Homo sapiens: one gene and its partners. The protein of the gene in region 1 interacts with the protein of each later gene in a pairwise test. Each region holds a gene or a part of one and is shown on either strand. Other genes may lie near its edges.

Region 1 (3,736 bases):
TTCTTCCAATCTCATAGAAACCCAGATGCCCTTCAGTGGGTAAATGGGTAAACAAATTGGTACATCTATTACTGTTTGGTTCTTAGTCTTATTTGGAGAAAGAATTCTGCCAAGCTACTGGTTTAGCCAGAGAAAGAGAATTCATTGAAGGAAAATACAGAGTAGGGAGTTTATCTAGAGAGACAGTACACTCTGAAAAGATGAGGCAGGGCGAGCTGCTGAAAGAGAGTGAGCCAGCAGCACCCCGAGAGTGGTGGGTTTTTATGATTTCAGATTTTTTCTTGAAGTTCCTGCCTCTTTCTTAAGTCTCCGCCTTTTTACTTTGTTTAGTTTTCTGCATCTGCCTTAAGTCCCTGCCTTTTCCCTCACCTAGTTCCCGCCCCAAGGTTGTGGGACCCTCCCTTACTATTGGTGTGCACGCGTGAACCCGATGTTGGACACAAATTGCTTCTGCGTATCTCTTAGGAATTTTCTCCTTTGCCCTCTTCCCTTTAGCATGCATCTAGCTACATTCTGGCAGGTTAACTGGCAGAGTGAGCAATCACTGGGGTCTTAAGGGGGATTCCTTTCTGCCTAGGTATTTCCCCTCCTGTCTGTTCATATCTAGCACGCCTGTTTGGGGTGATCCCTGGGGCATGAGATTTTCCAGACTCCTTTTCTCAGGGCAGCCCTTCTCCTCCTCATGTCTGTTTATCTGCCTATTCTACCACATCTATGCCGTGGAATACTACTCATCAGTAAGAAAGGAACAAATTATTGACACGTGCAACAGCTTGGATGGATCTTAAGGGAATTGTGCAGAGTGAAAAGAACCAATTTCAATTGGTTACCTACTATACGATTCCATTTATATAGCGTTCTTGAAATGACAAAGTTGTGGAGATGAGGACAGAGTTGTAGTTGCCAGGAATTGAAGTAAAGGGAGAAGGCAACTATGGCTATCGCAGGGTACCATGAAGAATGTTTGTGATAGAGTTGTTTGTGTGTTGACTGGTGGTATTCACACAAATCTATACATGTGATAAAATTACATAGAACTAAATATACTTAATATGCATGAGTGCACATAAAAATGAAACTGGAAAAGGTCAGTGGACTGTATTAATGTCAGTTTCCTGCAGTATACTGTAGTTATACAGGATGTTTTCATTGGGGAAAATTGAGTGAAAAATACATGGGATCTCTTTATTTCTTACAACTGTACATGAATCTACAATTATCCCAGAATTATAAATTTTTAACGAAAGAACAGAGGCATTGATGCTGAGAGACAAACCGTAGGCTTTTGGATCAGCACAATTGTGTTCAAATTCTGGCTTCCACTTACCACTTGTGGGATCTTGAGCCAGTTCTTTAACCTCCCTTTGCCTTAGTTTCATCATTTTTCAAGTGGTTGCCAATAATATTATTTTCCCTATTGAGTTGTTTTGAGGGTTAATTATCAATATTATGTAAGCCACTCATTGGTTAAATTGGGATCGTAAAAATATTTTATCTTTTCATTTAGCACTTAAAGGGATAGGCACTCTGCCTTCTCCAGAGAAATTTTAATATCACGAGATAGTCTCTGTTTCATTAACTTAGGCTAGTGTCTTTATTTCTTCTTTCATGGAGTTTACTCTGTTGTTCTTTTACTACCTTCCTGAGTTGGACACTTAACTCATTAAATATCTGTCTTCCTTCCTAATGTATGTGTTTGAAACTGTAGATTTCTCTTTTACAACTGTTTTAGCTGAGTCACAAAATTTTGATATTGGCAACCCAATATTTTCATTGTCATTCAGCAATAATAGTAACTGATTTTTTTCTTTGATCCAAGAATTATTTGAAAATGAGTTTTTCAGTTTCCAAACATATGATAGGGGGATCTTTTATATGTAGATTCTGACTTTACATTATGGTCTTAATAATGTCAATTCTTTGAAATATGTAAAGCTTCTTTTGTGGCTTAGCATGGGATCAGTTTTTACAAATGTTTCTTAAATGTTCCTTAATCATTAAGTGTAGGATTGTGTCTTCATTCACTCCCTTGATTTTGTTTATCCAATTGTTCAGATCTCCAATATCCTTACTAATCTTTAGTCTGGTTGACCTATCAGTTACTGTGGTGAAAATGTCCCTCTTTGATTATAGCTATGTCATTTTCTCCTTATAATTTTGCACATTTTTACTTTGTATACTTTTGGCTATATTGTTAGATACAGCACATTCAGAATTGTTACTGTTTTCTTGATGAGTTGTTTATTTTATCAGTAACGTTCTTTGTTTCTAACAATGCTTTTTCCCTTAAACATATTTTGATCTGATAATATAGTCATTTAAGCTGTTTTTGTTAGCTAGTGTTTACACAGTATATGTATCTAGGATTTAGAATTCTCAGGAAAAACATTTCTCTTCTCATTCTAGAGCCCACGCTTTCTTTGGTAAGTTTCTTTGCTATCTCTGTCATAAGGCATATCTTTTCAAGTCCATGCATTTACTGAAAGACTAGCCATTCGAGTTTCCTAATTGATATAAGGGCGCTCAATTCTAAATTCTTGCAACATACAGGCCTAAGATTTCATCTTCTTTTTCCATGAGGGCATCAAAACCCAAACCTCCACTTTATTAAGACTGAGTACCATCTTTTACTCCCTTCCCTCTTCCCAAAACCCCACCCATGGCAGGTGCAGTCTCAGCTTGTTGCGCTTACTATAATTTTTGGTTTTTAATTCTGGGCTCTGGGAATTCCCCTTACAGATTTTGCTATGCATTTTAAAGAATGTTGGTTATATTTTCTTCAACATTTCTAGGCATTTAAGATGTGTATGTAGGTGTCATGGATTATCTGGTCTGGCATGATGCTAGAAGGGCAGTTCTCATTAGAAGTACTAATTTAACCTGAGAATGATGTCTCTTGTTCGACAACCACATAAGTCTCTAGATTTGCCCTTTCTGAGACTTCGCATCATGTAAATTACATAAATCTGGTGTTTGACTGGATGCTGGATGCCCTGGTGGAGTGGCAGCACCTGCAGAGATCTGCATGTGTGTTTTTCTTGGTTCAGAGCTATTTTGAACATAGGGTACCAAAAGACTGTCTTTAGAACCCTGAGATTTTTGTATATTTCAACTTAAAATTTAAGAACATTTATGAACATAATATTAATCAATAATATTCACATCTTATTGCCGTTTACATAACACTTTTATTAAACAGTTTTAGTAGTTATAAAACTGATTTGCACTTAATTATTTTCGTAGTTATAAAACTGATTTGCACTTAATTATTTTCAGTTGAAGTGTTTTACAAATGATATGGTCATGTTTCACAATTACATGTAAGCAGCATACAGTGGTGATCTAGCTATCACAGGGCAAAGGTAGGATGCACTAATATTACGTTTTAAAAATAAAATTTAAGAAGGAAAAGGTTTCTAAATTACAGCTAATTGTAACTAGTAATATAACTAAAATAGTAAATTGTAACTACTATAATTATACTAATATAGTTCTATGAACTGGGCATGTTATTTATATAAATGCCTTAGTTTATGTTTTAAAACTGTGTTATAGGCCGGGTATGTTGGCTTACACCTGTAATCCTAGCACTTTGGGAGGCCAAGGCAGGCGGATGACTTGAGGTCAGGAGTTCAAGACCAGCCTGGCCAACATGGCAAAACCCTGTCTCTACTAAAAATACAAAAATTAGCTGGGTGTGGTGGCGGGCACCTCTAATCCCAGCTACTTGGGAGGC
Region 2 (3,736 bases), on another chromosome or scaffold:
TCAACTCCCACCCTAGGCTAGGTCATCTCCCCTGATTTCTCTTTTGTTCCCATACCCCTTGTCATATCTTGAAAAGGCAGCTGACTCATGAGTCCTACTTTGAAACTTGGGACAGCTTCACTGTAATGTCATTTGAAGTTGAAAATGGCTTGGTTCCTTTTGTCATCCAATGCAGGTGACTAAGCTTTGGCTGTGGGAGGTTTAGGGGCCTTTGAAGAGCAAAATGGTGCTTGACCTGGAGGCTGCTAATGTCTGAAGTTCAGCACGAAGGGGAAGCTTGACATTTGTTGAGGGAACCTTTTTTTATTTTTTATTTTTATTTATTTATTTATTTATTTATTTATTTATTTATTTATTTATTTTTTGAGACAGAATCTCGCTATGTCACCCAGGCTAGAGTGCAGCGGCGCAATCTCAGCTCACTGCAACCTCCACCTCCTGGTTCAAGTGATTCTCCTGCCTCAGCCTTCCGAGTAGCTGGGATTACACGCATGCACCACCACACCTGGCTAATTTTTGTATTTTTTAGTAGAAATCGGGTTTCGCCATGTTGGCCAGGCTAGTCTTGAACTCCTGACCTCAAGTGATCTGCCCACCTCAGCTTCCCAAAGTGCTGGGGTTACAGGTGTGAGCCACCATGCCCAGCCTGAGGGAAACTTTTTAAAAAAAATAATTCCAGCAATTTTTTATTTTATAAACTAATTTTTATAATACAGTTGACCCTTGAACAACTGTACAGGTTTGAACTGTACAGGTCCACTTATATAAGCAGATCAAAAATACAGTATTGGCAGGGTTTGAAAGCCACATATAGGGAGGACAGAGTTTTTATATGTACATGGATTCCTCAGGACCAAATAGGGGACTTATATTGGTGGATTTCATTATATATGGATGTCCTGCAACCAGTCCCTCGTGTATACTGAGGGAAGACTGTAGTTTTCATTTATAAATCTCCTTTTGTTTAGAAAGCACCCTCTACATAGTCATGTTTAACACATGGTCTGATGGCTTAGGTAAACACTAGTCCTGGACAATGGGTTACTGAGGTCGTGTACAGACCATGCGTCCATGTGTACAGACCAAGGATCAGCTGAATTAAGCCTAACTACCTGAAGAGGCCATTAGGATAGCCTTTTTCTATTGGATCTTATGGGGCTTTAAATGATTGCAAGAGATCAAGGTCCCCTATTTTCTGTCTCATCTGGGAGATTGAGCCTCACTTAATGCAGGTGCTTTCTTCTCATATCTGCCTGCCAAGAAGAAAATAGAGAATTGAATGGTTAAGCCTAGGAGGTACTTAAATGTTTAAGCCCACATAGAAGATGAGCAACCCCAGATTAGGTCATGAACTCAAATGCTGGTTTCTCTTGGGTCTTGCAAATCAGGAGTACCTGTTTCTGCATATCCTGGGGCTTCTGCTTTTGCCTTTGGATCCGGGGGTTGGGAGGACTCAAGGGACGTTCCAGATGAGAGTGTAGAACCAATTATGTGCGGACCCTTTCTTGCAACTAGTAGATGTTCTCCCTGTGGAAATTTGCTTTGGCATTTTCCCATATCTTCTTTTCAGTGTCCTAACTATTAAATCTTGTTCCTCTTACACTTTGCACATACTGAGGTTCTCAGTCAGAAAGTTCTTACCTTTTGTTTCCCTAATTTCAACTTACTCCTTAATTCAGCCTCCAACTTCCAATACTGTTGTCCTTCCTTTGATATTCTCTTTCCCCATCTTTTCAGGTAAGAACTCCACTTTATAAAAGCTCTGTTACCATCAGTGTCACCATTAATCTTTTCCCTTCGAGAGTAATGCATTTTTGACCATTCTCAAAGGACTTGCTTAGAGCATTCCAATGTGATTTTCCGATGGGATATTACATGCTCTGACAGCCTACACAGTAAAAAAGTGATTAGCCTCACAAAACCTTAGTTCTCACCAACATTGCCCATCCTTGCCAGTGATACCTCCCCCTTATTTGTCTAATTACTCTTACCACCTCCCGCTCACTTATCTATCATTGAGAAACAAGATCATATGGCTCAAATAGCAACACACATATTTATTACAACAAGATGAGGTTTTCTATAAAACAAAAACAAGTATACACAGAATATGGAGAAGGGCAGGCCTACCCTGATTTCTTTAAAAACAGGACATGTGGACTGGTGTGTCTTTTGTTGATAGATTCTTAATTTGTTGTTTTCACTAGCTATGGTCTGTTTGTCTTTTGAGGCTAAGTTATTACTTTTATAGCTAATGTCAACATTTGTCACTTTTTTCATTCCCTTCAGAATTATTGCCAGTGAGTTTCGGGTTTTTCTTCATTTATTTTACTCTATTTTTTGTGTTTTGGGTGATCTACCTAATTAAGTTGTGTTGTTTCTAACCTCTTCATTTATTTTTCTACCACTTTCCTGCCCCTGGCAACATCTCACAGTTAGATACCATCCTTACATTGAATGAATTTCCACTTGCACTGCAAATTAGCAATGAAGACATTAAATGGAATCCCGATAGTGACCGTTTCAAGAGCTAAGGCACCATTTACTATTCTGTTTTAATTATGGTCTCTTAGCAAATTTTCACCAGTTATAATGTTCACCCCATTTTCCAAGTAATGCTTCTCAAATACTGTATGAAATTATGAAATCTGTGTGTATTATATTTTCTGCTCTCTGTTACATGCAAAATTTATAATTCTAAAAATTTCTTGTAGGAAAAATTCTTATTAGACTGGAATGGTTAATTTGGTTTCTTGCCATCCTGCTTTTTGCATGTTGTGAACCACTAGACATTGATGTAATCTTTTATTTGACTTCATTTCTAACCCCCACCTCAGTTCCCCAAGCAATAATCCTACTCCATCCCTTTCCTCCATAGTGTGTGTGTTGGTGGGGGGTGGGTATTAAATGGATATTTTTTCTGGTCCCTAATATTTTCACTTTTTAAAACTCTACATGGCTGAAAAAAAAAGCCAGTGTCAGTTGATGATATCTTAGTCTGTTTGGGTTGCTGTAACAAATAGATCAAGTAACTTATAAATAGCAGAAATTTGTTACTCACAGTTTTGGATGCTGGGAAGTTCAAGATCAAGGTGCCAGCAGATTTGGTGTCTGGGGAGGGCCTTCTTCCCCACAGATGGTGCCTTTTCACCATAACTTCACGTGGCAGAAAGGGCTAGCTAGCTCTCCAGGGTCTCTTTTTATTTTTATTTTATTTTATTATTTTTATTTATTTATTTATTTATTTGAGACAAGGTCTCGCCGTGTTGCCCAGGCTGGAGTAGAGTGGCACAGTCTCGGCTCTGCAGTCTTAACCTCCCGAGCTCAAGCAGTTCTCCCACCATAGCTTCCCGAGTAGCTGTGATCACAAATGCGCGCTACCATGCCCAGCTAATTTCTCCATTTTTTGTAGAGACATGGTTTCACCATGTTGCTCAGTCTGATCATGAACTCCTGAGCTCAAGGGATCTGCCCAACTTGGCCTCCCAAAGTGCTGGGATTACAGGCATGAGCCACCACAACCAGCCTAGGGTCTCTTTTTATAAGGGCACTAATCCCATTCAGGAGGGCTCATAATCAATTCTCAAAGGTCCCACCTTCTAATACTATCACATTGGGGATTAGGATTCAATGTCTTTTTGGGGAGATATAAATATTTAGACCATAACAGATGGTCAAGATTTTTTTCCTCTTTTCTGTTCAGGTAAGTCTACCTCCTTACAACATTGCACCTCTT
Region 3 (3,500 bases), on another chromosome or scaffold:
GTTGACTGCAGAAAGTGAAACTGAGGGTAAGGGGAGACCACTGTATTTTAGAAGAAGCTGACTAATTTGTTCTCTGTCATTTGTTTTAAGTCTATGAGGAGTGTTTTCATAAATGAAGATGCACAGATGGCAGCCAGTTCAATCCTCTTCATATTTTTAAGCTTTTCCAGGTCCATGTTACGTATAGTCTCTGTAATGTGAACAGAATTTATTTTAGTTTTCAAGGTAGCAACATACATATGACATCTTTACCAATGACACACTATGAAATACATGTAGAACCAAGTGCTCTTTTTTCTAAGTTATTCCTAACATTGTTTTTCTCCTTTGTCCCTAACCCAAGCTCATATCTTTCATTAGCTATTCATTTAACAGTTTTGTGGATTCTTTGGCCCCAGTCTTCATAGCATTACAAATAGAAGATGGTTACTTTTCTTTCAAAAGACCCTTGGTCAGAGAGGCAGATGGCACAGTGGATAGGCTTCTGAAGTGGAGAAGTTAGCATAATTTATGGGTTTTATGGATTTATCCTCCTCCTAACATTTCTGTTTCTCCGTTTTGACTTTTGTCATAGTTCAAAGAAGGACATATTTGTTCCCTACTGGCTGTGTTACATCATATGGAATTTAAAGTCACTGGAATTGAGGTAGCAGTGAGAAGCATCATATGATTTAAAATAAAGCTTTGGGTCAATATTTACTGAAGTATTACATCAATATATTTCCTGTTTGGCTGACAAGAGTTAATAGCTGATTTTAAACTTGTTTATCTTTGCTCCTAGACAAAAGTTTTGTTCGAGGAGATTCTAAATTACGTATTTCTTTCTTGATACTGCTATGGAGGTGAAGCACATAGCAAGCCACTTTATCTTATATTTTGTATTGGTAAAAAATTTTATAAATTCTATGTAAGAATACAAAAAAATTAAAAGACCACTGTTTTTTGTCAATCACTTGTCCTTACTCTTAATGGTTTTATATAGTTTGCATGTATATACTAGGTTGGCTTATGATTTTGAAAGTAGAGACTCCCTATTATAATGAAATACTGAGAATGCAGAAAATATCATAGCACAATACTCTCATTGTTCCAGGGAGTTATGTTACTTAACTAAACCTGGATGTCGTTGTATGGAGATTAACAGTATTAAAAGGGGTATGCCACATGGTTTGATCAGTAATAAACCTCACCTCTAAATAATGGGCATTTTAAAATGCACTGAATTAAACATCTTTATGTCTGACTGAGGTCAAGAACATTAATATGCAGTTGCTTAGCAGGGTACCATTTATGCCACTGTTTGTCCAGAAAACATCTTGGTACAGGTTGCTGGGGAAGGGACTTTGATTATAACAGAAATCAAAAGCTTAAGAGTTTCCTTTAGAGACTCTGTGTAATCAGAACTAGAAGAATGAGTTATTAAACTGTAAGAAGCTGAAATTGTTTGGTTTGACATAAATACTTATTGAGCACCCATATGAGTTGGGCACTGTATTAGCTGCAGGGACTACAGTGGTGAGCAAGTGTGGGGATGCCAGAGGCAGATACCCTGGGAAAGGGAATGGAAAGATTGCTTCACTTCTAGCCTGTATTGCCAGGTCTGTTCCACACCTGGAACTCAAGCTGTACTTTGTCCAGTTTTTTTGTAGTCTTTAAAAATGTTCCCCACATACAGTGTTCCTTCCTGAGCTGCTGAGGAAAATGTCTCCCCTTTTAATGAGACCAGCCATATGAATGCCACTCAGAATCATCATGCATCCTTCTAGGATATGAGCTATAAATTGGGGACTCTTACTGGTATGACATAGTGTGTGTGTGTATATATATTATATATATATATATATAAGGCATATGTATATATATATATTAGGCTGAGAATATTTTGTTGTGCTGTGTGACTCAACCAGATGAGTTATTTTGTGAAAATATTAGCATTTTTATAGTGGTTGGTTAATTTAAACTCCACCAAATTTAATTTATGCTAAACCTTCAGTTGAATTATATAACTATGTAGGACATTGGACACATTTTTAATTGCATAAATATAACTATAAAGTAATATAAAATGCTTTCATGCAATGCCTACAAGATTTTTCATTTTTGTGTAGCTCTGTCAGTCAGGGATCCTTAAACTCTTCAAAACCAAATGCTAGAACACGTTGCTGAATAAATAAGGCCCTGGCATTGAACATTGTCTTGTACCTGCCCCAGGTATGTTCCCAACTCTTTTCACTCACTTCTACTATCTCTGCTATAACCAAGAGGTACCTGGGAAGAACCCCTCTCATTCCTCCTTCTTTTCCTAACATTGGAGCTCTTATCACATGTCTCAAAGATACCTGTGCAGTGAACAAGATCTTCACTGAAAGATGCCTCCAGACTTAGGAACTAAATATTTACACTGGCGAGGCAACCTCTAAACTCCTTGGAGCAGTGTCATTCTGCACACAGACCTGAAATGTTTGGGTTATTTGCAACCTTGATCAAGAAATGGGATAATGCCTGAAAAGTGAGTTATTTTTAAAAGAGGGCAAAGAGTAGAGAGTATGGTAGTATGATTGCACAGATACTTCTTAATCTTCCTAAGGAATCTGAAAAATAAGTTAAACTTGTCTTTGATTATTTGACCAAAAGAACTACCAGATTGACTCTTGAGTGGTAGCAATAAAAATAAAATAAAATAAAGAACAAGAGGCAATAGGCGCCTGCTTTGCTTGATCTTCCTAATTTTCTAGGTACAACTTTTTTTTCTCTCTTTTTTTTGAGATGGAGTCTTGCTCTGTTACCCAGGCTGGAGTGCAGTGGCATAATCTCGGCTCACTGCAACCTCTGCTTCCCAGGTTCAAGCGATTCTGCTGCCTCAGCCTCCCAAGTAGCTAGGATTACAGGTGTGCACCACCACGCCCGGCAAATTTTTGTTTTTTTTAATAGAGGCGGGGTTTCGCCATGTTGGCCAGGCTGGTCTTGAACTCCTGACCTCAAATGATCCACCAGCCTCAGCCTCCAAAAGTGCTGGGATTAAAGGCATGAGCCACTGTACCTGGCCTTCTAGGTAAAACTTATAAAGTACTTTTGGACCAGAGAAAAATGTAAAGCTAGGGACTTACTGGGTAGGGAAACGTGTGAGCATCCTTCAAAAGAGCTTTCACCTATTAAGTGCATGTCCCCAGATTGCCTTCTTCCTGGTTACTTCAGCTGTCTGAGTATTTGAATAAATTGTATCTGCCTCAATAAGACCACTTATTTTCATTAAAAAGTACTATCAAAACCATGGTTGGGTGCAGTGGTTCATGCCTGTAATTCCAACACTTGGGAGGCCGAGGCAGAAGGAACCCTGAGGCCAGGTATTTGAGGCTGCAGTGAGCCATGATTGAGCCATTGCACTTCAGCCTGGGGAACAGAGTGAGACCCTGTCCCTTAAAAAAAAATGTAATATCAAAACCATTTGCTTAATGCCCTAAATTGTGTATATGTATTCATTAAGCTTCAAACTTATGTGA

What was found.
Region 2: the proteins of UBE2E2 (region 1) and MARCHF3 interact in a two-hybrid assay, tested with the Homo sapiens proteins (one large-scale study listed by BioGRID and IntAct).
Region 3: the proteins of UBE2E2 (region 1) and RNF103 interact in a two-hybrid assay, tested with the Homo sapiens proteins (2 studies listed by BioGRID).

What each region holds. Positions count from the first base shown.
Region 1 is NC_000003.12:23,528,226-23,531,961, forward strand, and holds part of UBE2E2 (ubiquitin-conjugating enzyme E2 E2), read left to right. Parts: intron 1-3,736.
Region 2 is NC_000005.10:127,020,360-127,024,095, reverse strand, and holds part of MARCHF3 (E3 ubiquitin-protein ligase MARCHF3), read left to right. Parts: intron 1-3,736. UniProt on the Homo sapiens protein: E3 ubiquitin-protein ligase which may be involved in endosomal trafficking. E3 ubiquitin ligases accept ubiquitin from an E2 ubiquitin-conjugating enzyme in the form of a thioester and then directly transfer the ubiquitin to targeted substrates.
Region 3 is NC_000002.12:86,613,866-86,617,365, reverse strand, and holds part of RNF103 (E3 ubiquitin-protein ligase RNF103), read left to right. Parts: exon of another isoform or gene 1-949; intron 950-3,500. UniProt on the Homo sapiens protein: Acts as an E2-dependent E3 ubiquitin-protein ligase, probably involved in the ER-associated protein degradation pathway.